Regions from separate parts of the Homo sapiens genome. Here region 2 is linked to region 1. The links come from fine-mapping of genetic effects on gene expression. A gene starts in region 1. The other region holds a variant in brackets. All regions are shown on one strand. Distances are between the middles of the regions. Region 1 holds the start of GPD1L (glycerol-3-phosphate dehydrogenase 1 like). Region 2 overlaps GPD1L (glycerol-3-phosphate dehydrogenase 1 like).

What was found.
Region 2: its variant is fine-mapped to the expression of GPD1L in monocytes (TOPMed, PIP 0.97).

What each region holds. Positions count from the first base shown.
Region 1 is chr3:32,094,651-32,110,682 of GRCh38, reverse strand. GPD1L (glycerol-3-phosphate dehydrogenase 1 like) reads right to left here and starts at 4,063. Exons shown (of 8, transcript NM_015141.4): 1 at 3,925-4,063. The coding sequence starts at 3,971. RefSeq lists silencers at 3,661-3,800, 3,921-4,330, 12,300-12,399.
Region 2 is chr3:32,143,761-32,151,760 of GRCh38, reverse strand. It overlaps GPD1L (glycerol-3-phosphate dehydrogenase 1 like), which reads right to left. Exons shown (of 8, transcript NM_015141.4): 5 at 5,027-5,139. It also overlaps the pseudogene RPL21P137. Among named protein-coding and RNA genes, the nearest start is that of GPD1L, 41 kb to the right of the region's middle. RefSeq lists an enhancer at 3,365-3,978. The variant C/G (reference allele first, on the strand shown) is at 4,042.

The DNA.
Region 1 (16,032 bases):
TCTGATCTATGTAGAGAAAATGAGCTTCACCAAAGGACAGGACAAGGGCATGTTATACAACACGTCTACTTTCCTGCCCAGGACCTTCCTGGCTGAAGCTCCCTGGCAAGCCAGCTAGATTCAATATTCTGATAACTGTATTGCAACTGATGACAATTGACTTGGGAGAGGCACTCCATGTGAGAGTTCTCAAATGTGACAAACACCTTTATTTACACAAACAGGCTAAGCTGCCCTAAAGTTCCAAGTATAAACATTGCTTAAGCAACTTGACATTCCTGAGGTAAGAACCAGATCTGGAAGGGTAGGTCTATCTCTTGGTGATCTGTATTAAAATTGGCAAAAGGCTAAAGTTCCTTCAGAAAAAAAAATCTCATTCTCAGGGGATATGATTAAGCAAGTCTAGTTTCAGTGGTAATTCTGACACAAGTGGTCTTGGGACCACAATTTAAGAAACACGATTTAGGCCGGGCGCAGTGGCTTACGCCTGTAATCCCAGCACTTTGGGAGGCCGAGGCAGGCAGATCACGACGTCAGGAGATTGAGACCATCCTAGCTAACACAGTGAAACCTCGTCTCTACTAAAAAACACAAAAAATTAGCTGGGCGTGGTGGCGGGTGCCTGTAGTCCCAGCTACCTGGGAGGCTGAGGCAGGAGAATGGCGTGAACCCGCGAGGCGAAGCTTGCGGTGAGCTGAGATTGCGCCACTGCACTCTAGCCTGGGCGACAGAGCGAGACTCCGTCTCAAGAAAAACAAAAACAAACAAACAAAAAAAGAAACACGATTTAAAGTGTAACAGAGCAGTTACTCCATTCCACTTGGCAATTCCTTCGGTCTTATCTTCCATGTCCTCACTGATCTCAGACCTGAAGGTAAGTTGTTTAAGGACCGGGACTGTGTCCAGCTGTGTCTGCATCCCTGGTCAGACCACAGTCTCTTCACCGGGCAACACTCAAATGTCTACTGACTAGAGCTGAACACTCCTCTGGGGCTTCTCCATGTTGTTTTCAGTTTCTGAGTTCCTGAATCCCTCTGGGGAGGTTGTGATCCTCTCTCTAGGACTGGAGTAACTCTGTACCCAAGGCAGTGGCACAGAAGCCAAGAATTGTTCCCGTCTAATCCCATAATTAATGAAGCCAGGCAGCCAGCCCAAACCATCAGCACATTTCTCAATTGCTCTGCTTCAGTATCACTGGCCAAGTTCTACTCCATTTCCCTGGGCTGGAGTGGGCCAAGGAAACAGTCAAGTACACCAGAATGAAGAAGCCACGGGCAGGCAGCCAAATCCCAGCAGAGGGGGCAGGAGGCTCACTTCACTACTCTTGCTCCAGGCCCAGTTCCAGCATGGCAGAGCTGTGCTACTTGTCCTGCATCTTGCAAATTAGGAAAAGGGGCTGTCATCTGTGGAATTGTACAGACTAAAAAACTAATGTTAAAAAAACATGTGCTAAATGGGTGCCTTTCAAGTGGCATGGCCAACAGGGGAGCTGACACTGCACTCAAGTGAGCTTGACATTAAAACTGGCAAAGCCGGCCGGGTACGGTGGTTCATGCCTGTAATCCCAGCACTTTGGGAGGAAGAGGCAGGCGGATCATGAGGTCAGGAGATTGAGACCATCCTGGCTAACATGGTGAAACCCCGTCTCTACTAAGAATACAAAAAATTAGCCAGGCATGGTGGCGGATGCCTGTAGTCCCAGCTACTCAGGAGGCTGAGGCAGGAGAATGGCATGAACCCAGGAAGCGGAGCTTGCAGTGAGCAGAGATCGCGCCACTGCACTCCAGCCTGGGCGACAGAGGGAGACTCCGTCTAAAAAAATAGTAATAAAAAAAAACAACTGGCAAAGCCAAGCTGAAAGTCCAAATTAAGCTTTGCAGCAGCAAGCTACCAACTCTATTAAATATTGTGTAGAACATTCTGTTGTTGGTTGAAAAATGCAGCTCACAGAAAAGTATGCAATACCCTAGTATTTGCAGCGTGGAGGGCGAAAGGACTATATGTAAGCATTCACTTGCATGGAATTCCTCCAGAAAGGACAGAAGTAATTCATAACACTGGTTTTCCTCCAGGAGGTACTCAGGGGGGATAAATGTGGATGGGTGATGTTTCACTGTTTTTGGTACTCTTTGGTTTTTGTTTTTTATTTTTTGTTTTGTTTTGTTCTTTTGAGACAGGGTTTCACTCCCTTCACACAGACTAGAGTACGATGGTGCAATCTGATTTTGGCTCACTGCAACCTCTGCCTCCCAGGCTCAGGCGATTCTGCTGCCTTAGCATCCCAAGTAGCCGGGACTACAGGCGCCTGCCACCACACCTGGCTAATTTTTTGTATTTTCAGTAGAGACGGGGTTTCACCGTGGTCTCAATCTCCTGACCTCGTGATCCCCCTGCCTCAGCCTCCCAAAGTGCTGGGATTACAAGCGTGAGCCACCATGCCCGACTAATATTTTATTTTTTGTAGAGGCGGGGTTTTGCCGTGTTGCCCAGGCTAGTCTCAAACTCCTGGGCCCACCTCAGCCTCCCAAAGTGCTGGGATTACAGGCATAAGCTACTGCGCCCAGCCCTGGTTGTTAAACAATGTGAATGTATTATTCAATCAAATATCATTATGGTTTTAAAAATTAGTTTTTAGGCAGGGAGCGGTGGCTCACACCTGTAATCCCAGCTACTCAAGTGGATGAGGCACAAGAATCGCTTGAATCCAGGAGGTGGAGGTTGCAGTGAGCCAAGATCGCACCACTGCAACAGAGTCTTAGTATTGACTTAGCATATGCCAGGCACTAGGGTAGATGCCATTCTCAAAAGTTGGGAGACAGATAATCAAATAACTCCTTATAATGCAGTGATGCAGGCCAGCAATAGGGACACAGAGAGAGGCCACTGGCCTTGCTGGGATGGAAAAGTGAAGAACCAGGTAAGGTTTCCTTCAATAAGTACTTTCTGGGCCAAGTCTTGAAAGAGTAAAACTAAGACCAACTACCTAGGACCAGCTGCTGCAGCACTTCTGATGCCTGTCACGCCACAGAAAAACCGGTAAACAGAAGCACTGAAAGGACATCATCACTCTTAACTATTGTACACCAGTCCCTCCAATGTGGCAGAGTGTACAGCAATGAAAAAAGGCTTGGAAACACCAGATGCTACACTTTGCTTCCTTCCCCCTTCACACCCCCACCTCTACATTCACCCAAACACACCAGAGAATCCCACAGTGTACGTTTGATTAAGGGTACTAGAAGAACTGACATTTCTAATGTGCTCTATAAAATGTTAAAGTCAAATAAGGCCCCAAAGAGACGCAAAGCTTCGCAAACATCTCGGCAAGGGAGAATTCTCAACGCCTCAGGGAGAGCGGCCTGTTGAAACTTGGATTTTCTTCCTGATACGACGCGCCTAAGATAGTGGACCTATCAGAAGCGGGGGCGAGACGGGCACCTTGAAGGGCAGAGCATGCCCCGCCCGTGACCTGGGCAGCAAGAGCCCTTTAGCCCTCTCCGCCTCGGTTTCCTCAACACCGAAACTGCAGTAAGAATGCTCGAGCCTCCACCAAGTCCTTGACCCAGGAGATCCGCCGTGGAGAACGGAATACGCCCTTAGGATATTGTGCAAAACACCCAGGCGTGGCAAGCAGGTGGCTTCTGTGCGCTCAGTAACGGGGGCGCAGACAGGTGCCCGCGTGCTCGGGGTGCCCTCTCTCCGCGCTGTCCCCCGCACGCACGCGAGCCCAGCGCCTCCCGAGCGAGTGCCCCGGTGCGGCCTCCTCGGGCGCACGGTGCCCAGCCCAGCAACGAGGTCGCCCACCCCGCCTCCCTGCGCGCAGTGCCCGGTGCCCACGCCGCAGCATGGGGCGCGCAGCCCTCACCGCCCGGGAGAGGCGCTTCCTGGAAGCGGAGCCCCGGCCTCCAGCCCGCCGCCGCTCACCAGTTCCCCGAGCCCACGATGCACACTTTCAGGGGCGCCGCTGCCATGGCCGGGCCGAATGTAGCCGCCTGGACCGTGCTTCCCTGGCCGGCTGCCCACCTCCGCCTGTTCAGCCTTGCCCGCAGCGGCTGGCGGCGGCCCCGCCCCTTTCGCCTCTCCGCCAATGGTCGCGGCCACCCCCGCCCGGCGCCGGGGGCCGCAGCTGACAGCGGGGCAGGACCCGCTTCGCCACTCCCAAGAACCACTGCGCACGCCTGGCCCCGGCCGGCCTCCAGGCCCGGCTCCGGCACCGCCCCGCCCTGCCCGAGGCACGTCGGGACATGTAGTCCTCACCCCCCGTCGCTGCGCGGCCCTAGGCAGCAGCTCCCGCCGCGCCACATGCAGGCCCAGGCCACTGAGCAGCGACTCGCGCCCCTGGTTCCCGGTGGAGGCTGCACTCCATCCTCATGGGTGGAGCAGACCCAACCAGCTTGCCGTGGTGCCCCCTACACGCTCCTTTTTCCCTACTCGGGAAGGGCTGCCACATTGCCATTTGGAGCCGAGAGAGGCTCCTAGGTTGACTCTCAAGCCGACCAGACTTGGGGCAGAGCTCGAAATGCCCACCCGACCTTGTCATCCTCTGTTTCATTTGCACAAACAAGACACAGCCTGGCACCTCTGAACTTCTTAGAGAACTTGGATCTTCAGAGGACTTTGGAATTTGGCTGAACAGTACCTGCATTTCAAGGATGACACCTTTTCTAGTTAGAGTCAAGATAGAAACTTGACCTGGTGCAGTGGCTCACACCTGTAATCCCAGCACTTTTGGAGGCCGAGTCAGGAAGATCACTTGAGCCCAGGAGTTCGAGACCAGCCTGAGCAACATAATTAGGACCCCCCACCCCTCTGTACAAAAATTTAAAAAATTAGCCAAGCATGGTGGCACGCACCTATAGTCCTAGCTACTCAGGAGGCTGAGGCGGGAGAATTGCATGTGCCCAGGAGGTCGAGGCTTCAGTGAGCCAGGATAGGGCCACTGCACTCCAGACTGAAGGACAGTGAGACCCTGTCTCAACAAAAAATAAATACATAAAAATAAAGGGAAAAAGGTAACAACAGCTTGCATTCAGTGGGTGTCACCCTCACACGCTTACTTGGCAGGAATTGCTTTACCATTGTCTTTGCCCAGGGCCTGACTTATCCCTTGCTTGTGGTTTGTTTGCATTTGTGAGTAACACAATGCTCTCCTCCTTGACAAATAGAATCTTAGTTTGTTCATTCTGAGCATCAGTCTCTGCCAGGCACTGTGCTAGACGCTGTCAGAGTAGGACAAAGTCCTTTAAACCAGTGGTTCTCAAACTCTGCTGCATATTAGTCACTGGGGCTTTTAAAAATCCCCATGCCCAGACACCATTGCAGGCCAGTTACATCAGAATGTCCCATGGTGGGATCCAGGCATCAGGATATTTACTTATTGACATATATTTTTTGAGACAGTCTCCTTCTGTTGCCCAGGCTGGAGCAGAATTTTTTAAAGTTCAAGAGGTAGTTGCAAAAGCAAGCCAAGATTGAGAACCAGAAGACTAAAATATCAGTGGATTCTGGCTAAAGAAACAAATACTCTAGTACCTACAAAAAACTAAGCCTAGGCCGGGTGCCGTGGCTCACGCCTATAACCCCAGCACTTCAGGAGGTCGAGGCAGGCAGTTCACCTGAGGTCAGGAGATGGAGACTAGTCTGCCCAACTTGGCAAAACCCCGTCTCTACTGAAAATACAAAAAATTAGCCAGGCATGGTGGCAGATGCCTGTAATCCCAGCTACTCAGGAGGCTGAGACAGGAGAATCTCTTGAACCTGGGAGGCGGAGGTTGCAGTGAGCCGAGATCTTGCCTGGGCGACAAGAGCGACACTCCGTTTCAAAAAAATGATAGTAATACTAAGCCTATTAGTTTGATGCTCAGAGAACTGTTATTTTTGCTTTTTTCTCTACATTGTATGAAATATTTATTTGTGTTACTTATGATATTTACTTAAGGAAATACTTAAAGGGAGCTGGTGAGTCAGAGCAGTCTTTCCATCCCCTCACCAATGGTTTGTTCTCAATTATTTGCACTAATGCAAGGATACATGCAGGGATAATGGGAAAGATGGACTAGTAAAGCTTTATTAATCCTTTCTGTATTTGTGTAACAGAACGCATTTGTCAAATTGAATAATGAAGTCATGTCCTTGGGTAGTACACATACACTGCAAATATTTATGTTATCTAACTGAACTAGGGTCCCTTCACCTGACACAGTAAGGCCAAATACCCACACCAAGGTTTGCAGAGGGAGAAAGAAGGGTGTTTATCTGTAGGGTACCAAGCAAGGAGAATCAGGTAGCTCCTCCTTGATGGCTGGCAAGTAAGGGTTTTTAAAGGCAGCTGGGGGCCAGGCGCGGTGGCTCACACCTGTAATCTCAACACTTTGGGAGGCCGGGGTGGGAAGATTGCTTGAGCTCAGGAGTTCAAGACCAGGCTGGATAACACATACCGTGTCTCTACAAAAAATTAAAATTAGCTGGGTGTCCCAGCTAGTCGGAATAGGCTGAGATGAGGGGATTACTTGAGCCTAGGAGGTCGAGGTTGCAGTGAACTGTAATTGTGCCACTGCACTCCAGCCTGAATGAAAGAGCAAGACCCTGTCTCAAAAATAAAAAGTAAAATAAAGGTGCGTGGGGCAGAGGTTACAGGCAAAGTCATAAATCAATACATGGAGCTACACATTGGTTTGACCTAAAAAAGCAGGACATCTCAAAGTGGGGGAGGGGGACCCACAGGTCATAGGTGAATCAGAGATTTTCTTTTTTGCAATTGGTTAAGGAACTTTAGACAAAGCTTTGTCTAAAAATTTGGGGTCAGTAGAAAAGAACGTTAGTTCTCAGCCTGGGCAGTATAGGGAGACCCCATCTCTACAAAAATAATTTAAAAATTAGCTGACCATGCTGGCACAGACCTGTGGTTCTAGCTACTTGGGAGACTGAGGTGGGAGGATTGCTTGGGCCTGGAAGGTGGAGGTTGCAGTGAGCCATGATTGTGCCACTGCACTCCAGCCTGGGCAACAGAGTGATACACTGTCTCCAAAAAGAAAAAATAAAAGAAAAAAAAAGAATGTTAGTTCTGATTTGCAGACATGACTTTCAGGCCCCTCTGAAAGACGTTGAAGAACAGTGGTCAGAGTTCAATCCTCAGTTCCTCCTTATCTGAGGTCTATATGCCAGTGGATACATTTCGTGAGGGTCTGGGTTTTTAAAAAACAACTCAGGGACATAGTTAAGATGCATCATTAGTTTCTATAGGGACCATCTTCTGACTCTAACTTCCTTGGCTTTTTATTTTTGATTTTTTTTTTTTATTTTGAGGTAGAGTCTTGCTCTGTCATCCAGGCTGGAGTGCAGTGGCACAATCTCAGCTCACTGCAACCTCTGCCTCCCAGCTCAAGTGATCCTCTCCCTCAGCCTCTCAAGTAGTTGGGACTACAGGTACATGTCACAATGCTAATTTTTGTATTTTTTGTAGAGACGGGATTTTGCCATGTTGCCCAGGCTGGTCTCGAACTCCTGAGCTCAAGTGATCTGCCTGCCTCAGCCTCCCAGAGTGCTGGGATTACAGGCGTGAGCCACTGTGCCCGGCCTTGGCTATTGTTTTAAGCTACTATTACCTTCTTGCTTATTAATTTGCTCATTTACTTCTAAAGGCTGGGAAGGTGCCTGGAATTTCCCTTGAAGGAACTCAAGATTTTCTGTTATTTCCATGCTTGGGAGATCCACAGGCCTTTAAGAGAGGTCCCTGCTCTTAAATGATTTTGTAAAGGTCCCTTTACACCAAATGATTCATTTTTAGCAGTTGCCTAAAAGTTTTTAGTTTATTTTAAAAAAGGTTTTTTTTTGGTAGAAACAGGGTCTTGCTACGTTGCTCAGGCTGATCTTGAACTCCAGGTCTCAGGCAATCTTCCTGCCTTGGCCTCTCAAAGTGCTGGGATTATAGGCAAGAGCCACCACGCCTAGCCACCTAAAAGTTTTTTGTTTTTTTTTCTTTTTTTTAAATTTTTTGGGGGTCACGTAAAAGTTTTGTACCTTCTCTGGAAACTCTTATTCCTGAATATTACAACTACATTTGCATGAACGTGAGCTACCCACCTATTCTGTGTGTTGGGGTGATCAGACCCAACACTAAGCTGTGGGTGCTACGAAGTCCAGCAGAGTCAAAGGAATGAGAAAAGACAAGAGAGAAAGTGGGACCAGGGGGCCAACGCTAGTATGGAGGCTGCAAAGGCCCTGAGCTCTGGGAGCCCACGCTATTTATTGGTGATAAAACAAAGAAACAGGTGGTGAGGATGTGGGGGTTGGAAGGAAGTGGCGTATCAAGCGAATGAGCTATAGCTGTGAGAGTTTAGCATTTTCTTTGAAACATATGGCTACTTGAGATAATGGGAGTGCTAAAAGCAAGGAGCCCGCAAGTCTAGACCCATTCCAAAGGCCACGAGGGGTTTTAGACCCTGGACCCCTGACATGTTCCAAGCCCTGCCTCAGGTTCTCTCCCAACACTCAGCTTTTCTCCCAACACTGTGGACATATCCTGCCCAGCATCATCCTACAGTGTTTACTGGTCACCTGATATGCACAGCACATTGTGCCAGAACAGAGAGGATAGTCATTTGGTTTTACAGACTGGTTACAAAGATTAAGACAAAAAACAAATAGGTGAAATTTATGAACTTAATGTTGAGAGAATAAAGCAAGTTTCGGGAGAATACATACAGTGTGATCCCATTTCTGTTAGTTAAGAAACAAGCAAAAATAAATCTATCACTAGGGATTCACATGTAGTGAAACCATAGAGGAAAACAAAGAAAGGAAACACACAAAATGCAGGATCATGGATATGGTGAAGGGCAGGATTAGTTATTTATACATTTTGCACATATTAAATAATTTTTGTGTAGATGTTTAATGAAAATCATGGGGGAAAGGAGAAGCCACAGTACAGAGGACTGAAGAATGCCAGACGAATCACAGTGGATAGGAACTAGTGACCTGCTTTCCAATTTTGAGATAGCTGATCTTCTGCCAGTCCCACTCTCTTTTGTCTAAGATGACAGTGCCAACGATGTTGCCACCTTCTCCAAAAGGGTTGAGTAGCCTGGAAGACAAAAGGTTAGCCATTGTCATTGTGACAGTGCCAACTCTTCGGGGACCTGGAGAAGGCTTAGGGCAGGGGTGTCCAATCTTTTGGCTTCCCTGGGCCACACTGGAAGAACTGTCTTGGGCCACACATAAAACACTAATGATAGCTGATAAACTAAAAAACAAAACAAACAAACAAAAACTTGCAAAAAGAATCTCATAATGCTTTAAGAAAGTTTACGAATTTGTGTTGGGCCGCATGCGGTCCATAGGCTGTGGGTTGGACAAGCTTGGCATAGGGTGTCTATAATTTCATGCATGGAGACAATGTCTTTAACAACATGACTGGTTCATGCATTGTGGTAGAAAGAGGTGCCACTAGCTAGCCAAGTAAAAATCAGGCAGCACTTTGGAAACTCAGCCCAGAAATCTTCTTAGAAAGGTCACTGAGTTCATGAAGTACACTTTTTATTTTCCACATTACAGAAGGCCACGGCAACAGTGTTGCCAAACTTTTCTATGTAACTGGAGTCCCCTTTCCTCTCTCCAGATAACATTTCCCTCACTTTTAAGTCCTCACTCCCAGCCTCCTACACCATTACTAACATGCTCCCAGAGGCGTTTCTGGCTTGTATCTGCTGCCCAGTCCCAAAGCCAGTGCTGCGTGTTATGGTATTATCAATACTCCACTTCCAGGTATCAAAATCTGTCCTGATTATTGCTTGTTGCATAACAAACCATACCAAAATGTAGATCTTAAACAACATTTCTTTATCTCTGGAATCTTACATGGGGGTGGATGTTCAAATGGGGCTGGAAGGTCCACTTCCAAGATGATTTGCTTGGATGGAGCAAGATGGAGGCCAAAATGGCTGCCAAATTGTGGGTGTTGCTGCCTGGGAGCTTGGCAGAAGCTGAGGGCTGGAGGCTGGAGTCCTCTACGTGGGCCTCTCTGGAGCTGCTTCTCCATGGCATAGTGCCTGCGTTCCGCAAGGAAGCATCCCAAGAAAAACAAAATGGAAATTGCCGATTTCTTAAGACTTGAGTCCAGAAATGGCCATGACATCACTTTTGTTGTGATCTTTTGGTCAAGAAATTACAGAGCCCAAATTCTAAAGGAAGGGACATAGGCTCTACCTCTCGTTAAAAGAAGTGTCAAAGAATTTGGGGATTATGTTTTAAAATTGCCATTGCCATGCTCTATATTATATATTCGTATTACAAGTGAGGACACTAAGGTACAGCAACACTAATAAACACTTTCCAAGGGTCCAGTGGTGAGTCAGGACCAGAATTTTTGGATTCATATCCTGCACTTATCAACTGTTCATTTATTCTACATGTACTTACTGAGCACCTACTATGTGCTGGTCACTGTGCTGGGTCCCAAGAATTAAATATTAAACAAAAGCTGGATGAGGTGGCTCACACCTGTAATCCCAGTACTTTGGGAGGCTGAGGTGGGCGGATCACTTGAGCTCAGGAGTTCGAGACCAGCCTGGGCAAGACCCCATCTCTAAAAAAAAAAAAAAAAAAAAATTAGCCAGGTGTGGTGGTGCATGCCTGTAGTCCCACCTATTCAGGAGGCTGAGGCAGGAGAATCACTTGACCCCAGGAGGTGGAGGTTGCAGTCAGCTGAGATCGTGCCATTGCACTCCAGCCTGGACAACAGAGTGAGAGTCTGTCTCAAAAACAAACAAAGAAGAGAGGCAAGGTTCCTGACCTCTTAGATGCTTATATTTAAAGGAAGATGTAGACCAATGAACAGGGAAACACCCTAGTGTGATAAATGGTACCAGCTTACTATGGCAGCTCAGAAAAAGACCCTTGTCCCAGATTTGGGAGTTTAGGGAAGGCTTCCTAGATAAAGTAAGATCTCTGCTGAAACCTGAAGAGAAGGTAGCATCGGCAAAGTAAAGGGGTGGGAGAGCAGCTAATGAGCTGCTCCATGCAGAGGGAACAGCACAGGCCAAAGTTCAGAGTCTAGAGAGAGAATGGGATATTCAGAAGCTAAGAGGAGTTTAGTATGGATGGAGGGAAGAATGAATGAGTGACAGAATATGAGGGGAAAGGGGGAATGGAAATAAATAAAAGCAGAGAGGTAGAGGAGGTACCTGATTATGGTTGGCCTTATAAAGCATATTGAAGAATTAGAACTGAAATCCTGAAGGCCAAAAAAACCATTATAGGGTTTCACCAGGAGCTTAACATCATCAGTCTTGTGTCATAGGAAGCATGCTCTGGATGAATTCACAGGGAAAAGTCCCGAAGGCTGAGGCCAGGAAGGAGCCTGCTGCTGTATTCTATAAGAGCCATCATAATGGCTTAGAGTGAGATGGAGACCAGTGTGGTGGTAACAGTGATGGAGACAGGTGATTGAAAGTCAGACATATCTAGGAAGCAGAAAAAAGAGACTTACTACTTTCTCAGGTGGGAGAGAGAAAAGGGTCTAGGATGACTCCAGCTATCAGTCTTGGGCAACTGAATGAATATCATTTGCTAAAATGGGGAACCCAGGAAGAGAAACCGATCTAGAGAGAAGGATGATGAACTCAGTTCTAGACAAGTTAAGTTTGGGGGAAGGTCGTTTGATATCGAAGTTCAGATTTCAGGGAGGCAGTTGGATATGTGAGCCTGAGATAGACACATTTGTCATTTACCAGCATGTACTTAGAAGTTGCAAGTGGTCAGTGCCTAGAACAATGCCTAGCACAGAGTGGGCACTCAATAAATGTTGAATGAAAGTGATTGGGATCACTCAGAGAGATGGGAAGACAAACCAGGATAGACTCTGGAATGGACTTAATATTAAAGAAGAGAAGCATGAGAGGATGAGAAAGAAACAATGAGAACATTGTGTGGTATCACAGTTGCCAAAGGAAGGCAACATTTCAAGAAGGAAGGATGGTCACAGGGGAGTTGAAAGTGGTCAAATAAAAACTAGGGCTGGGTGCAGTGGCTATTCTATGCTTGTAACCCCAGCACTTGGGGAGGCTGAGATGGGCAGATCGCTTGATCCCAGGAGTTTGAGACCAGCCTGGGCAACACAGCAAGACTGTCATAAAAAAAAAAAAATGGATAGGACTAAAGTATAATGCATCTTTCTTTCTTTCTTTTTTTTTTTTGAGACGGAGTCTCGCTCTGTCACCCAGGCTGGAGTGCATTGGCGCGATCTCTGCTCACTGCAAGCTCCGCCTCCCGGGTTCACGCCATTCTCCTACCTCAGCCTCCCAAGTAGCTGGGACTACAGGCACCCGCCACCACGTCCAGCTAATTTTTTGTATTTTCAGTAGACGGGGTTTCACTATGGTCTGGCTCCTGACCTCGTGATCTGCCCGCCTCGGCCTCCCAAAGTGCTGGGATTACAAGCGTGAGCCACTGAGCCCGGCCGTGTAATGTATCTTTCGGGCTTGGAGGATGTTGGTAGGGTCCTCATATGGTTGTGCAGGTAGCACACTGCACAACACCAGCAGGCACCATGCACATTGCAGACATTGCAGATTGGTATACCTAAGATGACTATTTTCTGATAGATGGAAGCAAGCGTCTTGAAAAAGGGAAATGTTTTTCCAGTCCATATGAAAGCAATATATGGGCTAGCCACAGGCCTGTTTTTTTCTGTATCTGGTCAGAGTAAGTCACTTTCAGTTTTGGGGCAGAGCATAAACTCATTGTGTGGTGGGTGGAGGTATAAATAAATGGAAGGTAGGGAAGTGAGGCTTGAGAAAGTACAGATATCTTAGTCTGTTTGTGCTGCTGTAACAAAATACCTGAAACCAGGCAATTTATAAAGAACAGAATTTTTTTGTTTGTTTGCTTTTTTTTGAGACAGGGTCTCCCTTTGTCGCCCAGGCTGGAGTGCAATGGCAGGATCTTGGCTCACTGCAACCTCCATCTCTCAGGTTCAAGTGGTTCTCGTGTTTCAGCCTCCTGAGTAGCTGGGATTGCAGGCTTGTACCATTATGCCTGGCTATTTTTGTATTTTTAGTAGAGAGAGGGTTTCACCATGTTGGCCAGGCTGGTCTCAAACTCTTGGCCTTAAGTGATCTGCCTGCCTTGGCCTCCCAAACTGCTGGGATTACAGGCATGAGCCACCGAGCTCAGCCCAGAAATTTATGTCTTAGTTCTGGAACCTGGAAAGTCCCAGGTCAAGGTGCTGGCATTCAGTGTCTGGTAAAGGCCTTCTTGCTTGTCCTCACATGATGGAAGAGCAGAGGGAAAAAAAAAAGGGCCTAATTCCCTGTATCGCTTTTATGAAGTCATAATCTGGCCAGGTGCTGTGGTTCATGACTATAATCCCAGCACTTTGGGAGGCTATCATGGGAGGATTGCTTGAGCCCAGGAGTTTGAAACCAGCCTGGACCACTTGGCAAGACCTTGTCTCTACAAAAAAATTTTTAAAATAGCTGGGCATGGCGGTGCACACCTATATCCCCAGCTACTTGGGAGGCTGAGGTGGGAGGCTCCCTTGAGGCCAAGAGGTTAAGGCTTCAGTGATTGTGTCACTGCACTCCAGCCCGGGCAATAGAGCAAGCCTGTCTCAAATAAACAAATAAAGTCATAATTCCCAATTAGAGCCCTCATGACTTAATCACCTCCTAAAGGCCCCACCCCTTAATACTATCAAATTGGGGATTAAGTTTCAACATGAATTTTGGAGAAGACACAGACATTCAAACTGCAGCAGTAGACAGTGTTTTCTAGAAGTTTGGCTGTGAGAAGATGAGAGCTAGGGACACGAGGAAAAGGAGAGGCAAAACTAAAGAGTAGCAAAATAATTTTAGTTTTTTTGTGCTTGTTTGTTTTACATCATGTGGAGGAGGCTAGAATATGTTGAACTAGTCCTGGGGAGGAGCCAACAGAGAGGGAGATATCTAAAATACAGGAGAGGCCAGGTGCAGTGGTTCATACCTGTAATCCCAGTAGGAGGATCTCTTGAGTAGTTGTGATTCCAGCTACTCGGGAGGCTGAGGCAGGGGGATCCCTTGAACCCAACAGTTTGAGGTTGCAGTGAGCTATGATTGTGCCACTGCACTCCAGACAGAGCAAGACTCTGTCTCAAAAGGTAAATAAAATGAAATACAAAAGAGAGACTGAGAATGAGATTGGGAGTAAGAGTGAGAGATAAATTAGTCTTTTTTTTTTTTTAATTGAGACAGAGTTTTGCTCTTGTTGTCCAGGCTGGAGTGCAGTGGCGTGATCTTGGCTCACTGCAACCTCTGCCTTCTGGTTTCAAGTGATTCTCCTGCTTCAGCCTCCCGAGTAGCTGGGATTACAGGCACCCGCCACCATGCCAGGCTAATTTTTGTATTTTTAGTCGAGATGGCATTTCACCATGTTGGCCAGGCTGGTCTCGAACTCCTGACCTTATGATCCGCCTACCTCGGCCTCCCAAAGTGTTGGGATTACAGGCGTGAGCCATGCGCCCAGCCAAGGGATTAGTCTTATATTAGACAAGATGGTCCCAGAAAAATTCTCTGAGAAGGAGACATCTGAACGCATGGAAGGAGCCTGCCATGGGAAGGTGGGAAGAAGACAACTCCAGGGAGGGGGACTGCTAGTGTAAAGGCCCCGAGGCAGTGCAGAGCCTGCATGTTTGAGGAACAGAAAACTATAATTAATAAGTAAGTATGAGAGAGAGGAGCATTTCAGTCAGAGACACAGTCAGCCCAGATTAAATAGCAGGGTCTTGTGGTCCATAGTATTAAAAAAAAAAAAAAAAAGGATTTCCCACTAGGCAAATCTGAGTCAATGCATGCATTAAAATTAATAATAATAGTTATGAATTTAAACTCTTTGAATAAAAGTTCATGAGCCTATACCGATTCAAAGAAACAAGTAAACAAACAAGGCAGAAGGGAAATAAGTAAACAAACAAGGCAGACAAACAAGTCAAATGTCAACCCATAAATATGGAAAGAATGATGGCTCTAGACAATCATCAATGGATGCTAACAATAGTGACGAAAGTTTGATGTGGGACAGGATATTTATTTAGCATTAAAGTGTCCACACAAATTGTTTACAAAGGATAAAACAGTAACTTTACTGTAGAGTAAACTGGCTGACACCACCTTAACCACATGGTCAAAGTCATTGCCAGTGACGGGACAAACTGATACATGCATCTTCTTTAACTAAAATGAGAAGATATTTACTTAATATCAGTGTGTTAGATATTTATTTTTAAAAATAGGACTTCAGGATTTTACAGATTAAAATATTTTTAATTCTTTTGATGTCTGACAGAGACTTGTCCATTTTCTCCAAGTAAGGACATAAGCTATTACCATATCCGATTACCATTTTATTTCATCTTATTTTATTTTAATTCATCTTATTAATCTTACTTTAATTAACTTATATTTTGAATAATTAATGCATCCATTTGGCTCAAAACCCAAAAGTCTTAAAGAGGTATACAGTGAAATCCCTTTCTTTTACAGCAGATGCCCAATTCCCTCCTTTGAAGAAACCCTTGTTCTCAATCCCAATTTCTTTGTGTATCCTTCCAAGAATATTCCATGCATATACAAATACATTTTTTTCCTCTCTCTTTTTTTGTTTTTGAGACAGAGTTTCGCTCTGTTGCCTGGCTGGAGTGCAGAGGCACAAACATGGCTCACAGCAGCCTTGACCTCCTAACTTCAAGCAATTGATCCTCTCACTTCATCCTTCCAACTAGCTGAGACTACAGGTGCGAGCCACCATACCTGGCCAATTTTAAAAAGTTTTTGGTAGAGATGAAGTTTCACTGTGCTGCCCAGGCTGGTCTTGAACTCCTGGGCTCAAGAGATCCTCTGGCCTCAGCCTTTCAAAGTGCTGGGATTACAGGCGTAAACCACTGCGCCTGGCTCCTCTTGTTTTTAATTAGTATGCTATGCACATTGTTCTGTTACTTGCTTTTTCACTAGATGTCATTTCGCATTAAAAATGTCAGTCAACATAAGAAAAGGATGCATA
Region 2 (8,000 bases), 45 kb before region 1:
AGGTCTATAATCCTAGCACGTTGGGAGGCCAAGGCTGATGGATCACTTGAGTCCAGGAGTTTGAGATCAGACTGGGCAACATGGTGAAACTCTGTCTCCACAAAAAATACAAAAATTAGCAGGCATGGTGGCAAGCACCTATAGTCCCAGTTACTCAGAAGGCTGAGGCGGGAGGATCACTTGAGCCCAGGAGGCAGAGGTTGCACTGAGCTGAGATTGTGCCACTGCACTCCAGCCTGGGCAACAGAGTGAGACCCTGTCTCAAAAAAAATAAAAAATAAATACATAAGCTAAAAAACCTTTTTTTAAAAAAAGATGATATTGTAGACATCAGGGGAATGGTCACTGTTCAAAAAGGAATGCCCCACAAGTGTCACCATGGCTAAACTGGAAGAGTCTACAATGTTACCCAGCATGCTGCTGGCATTGTGGTAAACAAGTTAAGGGCAAGATTCTTGCCAAGAATTAATGGGTGTATGGAGCATATTAAGCTAAGAGCTGAGATAGCTTCCTGAAACACATGAAGGAAAATGATCAGAAAAAGAAGGAAGCCAAAGAGAAAGGTACCTGGATTAGACTGAAGTACCAGCCTGCTCCACCCAGAGAAGCGCACTTTGTGGGAACCAGTGGGAAGGAGCCTGAGCTGCTGGGACTTATTCTCTATGAATTCATGCATAATAGGTGTGAAAAATAGGCTGGGTGTGATGGCTCACGCATGTAACCCCAGCACTTTGGGAAGCTGAGGCAGGCGGATCACTTGAGGCCAGGAGTTCGAGTAGCTGGGACTACAGGCACAAGCCACCACGTCTGACTAATTTTGTTTATTTTTTGTAGAGATGCGGGGGGTCTCACTGTGTTGTCCAGGCTGGTCTTGAACTCGTGGACTCAAGCAGTCTTCCCACCTCGGCCTCCCAAAGTGCTGGGATTACAAGGATGACCCACGACGTCCAGCCATTGATGAGTTTCACTTTTTTAACATTAATCATCTTTAGTAATATTCTCCATAGTAGCCAATTACAAAACGTACATTACAGATGTAATACATCTGTTGGCCAGCTACAGCCTGGCCAACATGGCAAAACCCTATCTCTACTAAAAATACAAAAATTAACTGGGTGTGGTGGAATGCACCTGTAATCCCAGCTACTTGGGAGGCTGAGGCATGAGAATTCCTTGAACCTGGAAGGCAGAGGTTGCAGTAAGCTGAGATCACACCACTGCACTCCAGCCTGGGCAAGACTCTGTCTCAAAAAAAAAAAAAAGTTGTTAAGAAAAAAAAGACCACTAGACTATTTAAAAACACAGAAAACAATAACATAAATCAGGCGCTGTGGTGCATACCTATAATCCCAGCTACTTGGGAGGCTGAGGCAGGAAAACAGCTTGAGCCAAGGAACACAAGACCTCTCTCAGAGGGGAAAAAAAAGATAACATAGATTAAACAATATACTTATGATTTTTGTACTTTTCTATATGAAGTACCTCTTAAAATTTATATTAAAACAAACAAAAAATACACCTCCAATCAAAGAAGCCAGACACAAAAGAGTGCATACTGTACAGTTCCACTTATAAAAATCCTAGAAAATGCAAACGATGGCATATAAAAGCAGATCAGCTGACTGCCCAACTGGAGGCTGGGGTGATGAGGAACCTCAAAGGGACATGTGGAGTTGTTTGGGGATAATGGAAATGTTGTGTACTTTGGTAGTGGTTTTCGCAAGTGCATGCACACAACTCTCAAAACCCATGGTATTATAAACTCTAAATAGATGCAGTTTGATTACATGAATTACATTTTTTTTTTTTTTTGAGACGGAGTCTCACTCTGTCGCCCAGGCTGGAGTGCAGTGGCACGATCTTGGCTCACTGCAGCCTCTGCCTCCCAGATTCAAGTGATTCTCGTGCCTCAGCCTCCCGAGTAGCTGGGATTACAGGCACACACCACCACGCCCAGCTAATTTTTGTATTTTTTAGTAGAGATGCGGTTTCGCCCTATTGGCCAGACTGGTCTAAGACTCCCATACTCACGTGATCCACCCGCCTTGGCCTCCACAAGTGCTGGGATTACAGGTGTGAGCCACCATGCCTGGCCTAATTACATGAATTACACTTAAAGTTGATTTTTAAAAAAGGATATATCCTTACTAAGAGATGAATACAGCTAAGAGTTCATGAAGGACATTCCGAAGGTAGTAAGAGGCACTGGTACAAAATGATTATGCATAAATCCTTTGAATTTTCTATTTTATCCTTGTAGAGAGTTGTTTTCACATTTTTCCTAGTAAGTCAAATGCTCCACATTTTTGAGTACAAAAAAGATAATGTACATTTTGTAAATTGGCTAGTATGGAGAATATTACTAAAGATTGTTAACGTAAAAAAGTAAAACACATCAATGGCTGGATGTGGTGGGTCATGCCTGTAATCCCAGCACTTTGGGAGTCTGAGGTGGGAAGACTGCTTGAGTTCACAAGTTCAAGACCAGCCTGAACAACACAGCGAGGCCCCATCTCTACAAAAAATAAACAAAATTAGTCGGGCATGGCAGCATGTGCCTGTAGTCCCAGCTACTCAGGAGGCAGAGGTGGGAGGACAGCTTGAGCTTGGGAGGCTGAGGTTGCAATGAGCCATGATTGTGCCACTGCACTCAGTCTGGGCAGCACAGCGAGACCTTGTCTCAAAAACAAACAAAACACACACACACAAAATCAAACTACTTGAACACTAATATCTAGTTTTTGTTTTAAAAAGGACCCATACACATAGGTACACACTAAAAACATTGGAAGGGTATACAACAAACATTAACTGAGGTTATTTCAGGATGTAGGATTGTCAGTGATTTGATTTTTACTTCCTTCTTTACACCTTTCTGTTGTGTGAAAACAAGGAATATGACTGTGTTATAGTCGGGGGGAAAAACCCATCACTGTTATTTATGTGATGAAAGCAACATACGGCCATGTGTCCTTGCTCTGGCAGGCTCTGATGAGAGAGGGCTTCGTTTCATTCATGCTGCCTGATTACTAACCAGAAAAGTCAAGTGGTACACAGTAACCAAAGAAACTGGGCTGAGAGTCTTAAAACCCGTGTTCACGCTCCGAGTGTGCCAGTGTTTGCTACCCTAAAGTCATTTGCTCTTTGGATCTCGATTTCCTTATCTGTGCAAGACAATGGTTGGAGTTAATAATTGCTACAAGTGCCTGTTTCTCAGTTTTCAAAAATTTTAACTCTGATGCAAACCCCCAGGAATGATGGTAACTGATCTCGTTTTAAAAGATTGTGTGGGAAGTTGCAGGGAGGATGATTAAGGGCCTTCAACCCCCACCTCCCTGCATCCCCCATGAATCCCTTTCCATCAAGGTAGCTGGCACATCCACTTACAGTCTTCCTGCCAGCAAAAATGAAAGCCATTCTAAGTTCAGACACAAGACCAGCATGGGTTCCCATTAGCAGAAGCTTTTCCAAAGCCCTCACCTCAATCTAGACTCCTTCTTCTCACCCAGCACTCTTTGCTCTGGGCAGGGTTTCACAGCTTCTCCATGACCACCAAAAACATCCAGTCACTTGAAAACAGCTTTGGAGCAGCTCAGGCCAGCACTGAGCAATTAGGCATTCACGATGCCCCCTGCTGTTGAGTGGTAATTAGTTTAATGAAGGACTATTAAAAACACATAAAAATCTCAACCAACAAAAATAAACAAAGCAGCCAAAGTCAGCGTCTTACATGTATAACTGGGCCTGCATGTAATGTAATGCTAATGCAAAGAATGCCCCACACAGGCGCTTAGAAATATGCATGTGTGCTCCCTAGGAGCCCAGGCCTTTAATTGGCTTTAATTTTTTTAAATGCTCATTATATATCATGACCACACATATATACACAATGTTAATTCTAGAGAGTGGTTTTAACTTCTGACTAGAAAAAAACATATACAATTTATGAGAAAGCATAGACAGGCATTCTTTCCACCTTTGCAACTCCCATCCAATAAAGACAGGTGACTGGTGGATTGCCTAACCTCTTCCCTAGATGCT[C/G]AAATTTCTGAAGGGTGGCTTTTTGCTGCAAAAGAGATGACTCAGAAGTGGCTCAAAAGGGGCATTCACATTGAGAACTTTTTATTTCCCCTATTCCCCCCACTCTTTTTTGTAGATGATAGTGAAATAAAGGCAACTTAGATAGTGAGGGGGAATGAGCAGGTAGCTGCTGCTGTTCCCTGTTGGTTGTTCCCCCAAGTCACGGCAGAGAGAGGGACAGTGCCTAAGGCTTTAAAAGACAGCAGCCAACAAGTCAGGAGCCCAGGTGTGGAGACCTCCCTTTACCTCAAAAGAGGGGAAAAAAAGATAACATAAACTACATACTTATGATTTTTGTACTTTTCTGTATGAAGTACCTCTTAAAATTTACATTAAAACAAACAAAAATACACCTCCAATCAAAGAAGCCGGACACAAAAGAGTGCATACTGTACAGTTCCACTTACAAAAATCCAGCAAGCCACTGGCCAGTGGAGTGCATTTCTTTAATCACATCTTCTCTCTCTTGAGGGCAAAGACAAAACTATTCTTAGAAAAACCTCTACCAGCAGCAGATTATTTTTTCCCTTAATAAGAACAACCAGCCAAACTAGTAGAGTAGCATAATTCAGAGGAAACAAGTTCCTTTTCCTGCTCAGGATGAAGTGTGGGAGAAAAACATGAATGAATAGAATCATTTGCTCCTGGGTGAAACCCTGTCATCAAGGAACTCCCATGCTTTCCAAATATCAATGCTGCCAACTTCCCAAAGACCAAAACATCACAATTCCCCCATATTTACAAGTTAAAGCAAGCCACGAGTAAGAGAGGAACTGAACCACCCGGGAAAGGCTGCAGCAAAACAGGAAGTTATAAACAAGACTCTCAATTCACTATTCTTCGCTGATGTGGGTGCACAGAACACAGAGCCCATTCTTGAGGATTAGACTCAATGATGCTAACATTTGCCTTGCTTGATGAACTCCTCCCCTGAGGCTGACTTTACCTTAAGCGCACCACAGAGTTCAACAGTGTCTGCATCATCAACCACGGTAATTCGAAAATTTGGAGTCTGCAGAAGTTCTTTGAAGAGAAGGCCGTTCTCCATTACTTTGCTGCCTGTTGAAAGGTTAGACAACAAGGATATTAATAACAGCCTCTAATCTTAATTTTCACACCTAATACACTTTAAAATAAGTTTCTACTTACTATAAAAGTAACATGTTCATGATAGGATATTTAGAAAACACATAGGAGCAGAAATAAAGTAAAAATATCCCGTTTCCAATCGAGGTGATCATTTACAATTTGACATACATTTTTAACTGACCGAATGTGAATCTAAAGTTTTTTTTGGCCAGACACGATGACTCACACCTGTAATCCCAGCACTTTGGGAGGCTGAGGCGGGCAGATCACGAGGTCAAGAGATTGAAGCCATCCTGGCTAACATGGTGAAACCCCATCTCTACTAAAAATACAAAAAATTAGCTGGGCGTGGTGGCACGTACCTGTGGTCCCAGCTACTCAGGAGGTTGAGGCAGGAGCATCGCTTGAACCCAGGAGGTGGAGGCTGTAGTGAGCTGAGATCTCACCACTGCACTCCATCCTGGGCAACAGAGCGAGACTCTGTCTCAAAAAAAAAAAAAAAAAAAAAGAAAAAAGCATGATTGTCAACAAGTAAAACTACACCAAGAAGTGACACAATGTCAAAATAATCCAGGCCATCTGAGGGTTGAGAGAGGGTGGGGAGTGGATGAAATGAGACTGGCCAGGAGTTAATCATTTCTAAAGATGGGTGACGGGCATGTGAGGTTCGTGATACTACTCTACTTTTCTGAAAAGTTTCATAATAAAACACAATATCTACACCCAATACTTAGAAACACAGTCTACTCTGTAGCATTACTGTTCTTTCATTTAGCTGAGTTCCCCTTTTCCAAATGTTAGAACTATGTCAGTTTGTGCAAACTGTTCTCTTCCTTTTTAAACAGTCCACCAGGCTGTCTAGGTGACTCTGTGCAACACTGTTGCATCATCTGGGTTGGGTAAACCAGCCCCTGGCCCCTACATCATATTACAGCCTCATCGTGTCTCCTCCCACTGCTCAGTGCCTCCAACATGAAGCATGCTCCTGAACATTGCAGACCAGCCCCTCCCTCAAGTCACTTTAATCCAGCCATCTGCAGCTGGAAACTTGGGTTGCTGGTGAACAAACTGAGGAATGGGCAGGGGAAGGCACACTCTTGGCTTGCCATAGATACAAGGTAGGGTCTATGGGTTCCTTTGTGGCTGCAAATAACGCAATGCCCATCCAAGAGGTGGGCTTGATTTATAGCAATCTCATATTTTCTCAAAGGTACCTTTTAAAATTTATTACCTTAAATCATGGATAATAGGTAGTAACTTTATTTATTTATTTATGAGACAGAGTTGCTGTGTTGCCCAGGCTAGAGTGCAGTGGCACTATCTCAGCTCACTGCAACCTCCACCTCCCAAGCTCAAGCGATTCTCCCGCCTCAGCCTCCTGAGTAGCTGCAACTATAGGCATGCGCCACCATACTCGGCTAAGTTTTGTATTTTTAGTAAAGATGGGGTTTCGCCATGTTGGCCAGGCTGGTCTCGAACTCCTGACCTCCAGCAATCCACCTGCCTTGGCCTTCCCAAGTGCTGGGATTAAAGGCATGAGCCACCGCACCCGGCCCGCGAATTTTATTATTAATATAATACCAGTCATAAGCCAGCGCGGTGGCTCATGCCTGTAATCCCAGCACTTTGGGAGGCTCAGGTAAGTGGATTACTTGAGGTCAGGAGTTCGAGACCAGCCTGGTCAGCATGGCGAAATCCCATCTCTACAAAAAATTCAAAAATTAGCCTGGCGTGGTGGTGTGTGTGTGTGTGTGTGTGTGTGTGTGTGTTCCCAGCTACTCAGGAGGCTGAGGCATTAGAATCATTTGAGCCCAGGGGGCGGAGGTTGCTGTGAGCCGAGATCACGCCACTGCACTCCAGCCTGGGCAACAGCGTGAGACTCCATCTCAAAAACAACAACAACAACAACAACAAACCCCAGTAATAAACAGTGACATGGCAAGCAGGGACTCAGGGCATCTGTACAGAACAGCTAATGCCGGACAGCCATGTGGGAAGGTTGCCCAAAACTCAATGTAAACCAAAGACAGGAAAATCCCCTTTCTCTGTCACACCAAGTTTTAGAGGCAATTAACCTATGTAATAAAACTCCTTCAAAACCCTTATTTTAGTTTGTGATTCCATATGTGTTTGTGTGCTTACAAGTTCCATAAGGAGCTTATGTATTCTAGACATTTGGCACCATGCCTGATACATAAGAGGGTTTGAAAAATATTTGTGGAATGACTGGATTAAAAGCCTCAGAGTCTGTGGTATGCCCCAAGAACGAAAGGAGACCTTACCACAAGAGGGCACTGTAGTTCACCATGACAGGATTTTGAGGCCTGAAGCTGCCCTATCTTTTCCCTCCACAGAAGATTCAAGTGGGCCACGATTCCTGAACCTACCGCAATTTAAAATAGTCCCTATGCATCAACAAAGGATGTCTGGATAACCACACTGCAATGATCAAATACAGAAAATGTAATGTTTACATAATATTATTATCTAACATATAATCCACATTCAAACCTCACCAATCACCTCTGCATTGTCTTCCACAGCAACCCTCCCTGCCTAATCCAGGACCCCACACTGCACATAGTGCTCATGTCTCCTTTTTGATTTTTAGAGACAAGGTCTTGCTCTGTCACCCAGGCTGGAGTGCCATGGTGCGATCACTGCTCATTGCAGCCTCCACCTCCCACGCTGAAGCAATCCTCTCATCTCAGGCTCTCGAGTACCTGGGACCATAGGCGTGCACCACCACACCTGGCTAATTTTTGTATTTTTAGTAAAGATGAGGTTTCGCTTGTCATGTTGACAAGGCTGGTCTCAAACTCCTAACTTCA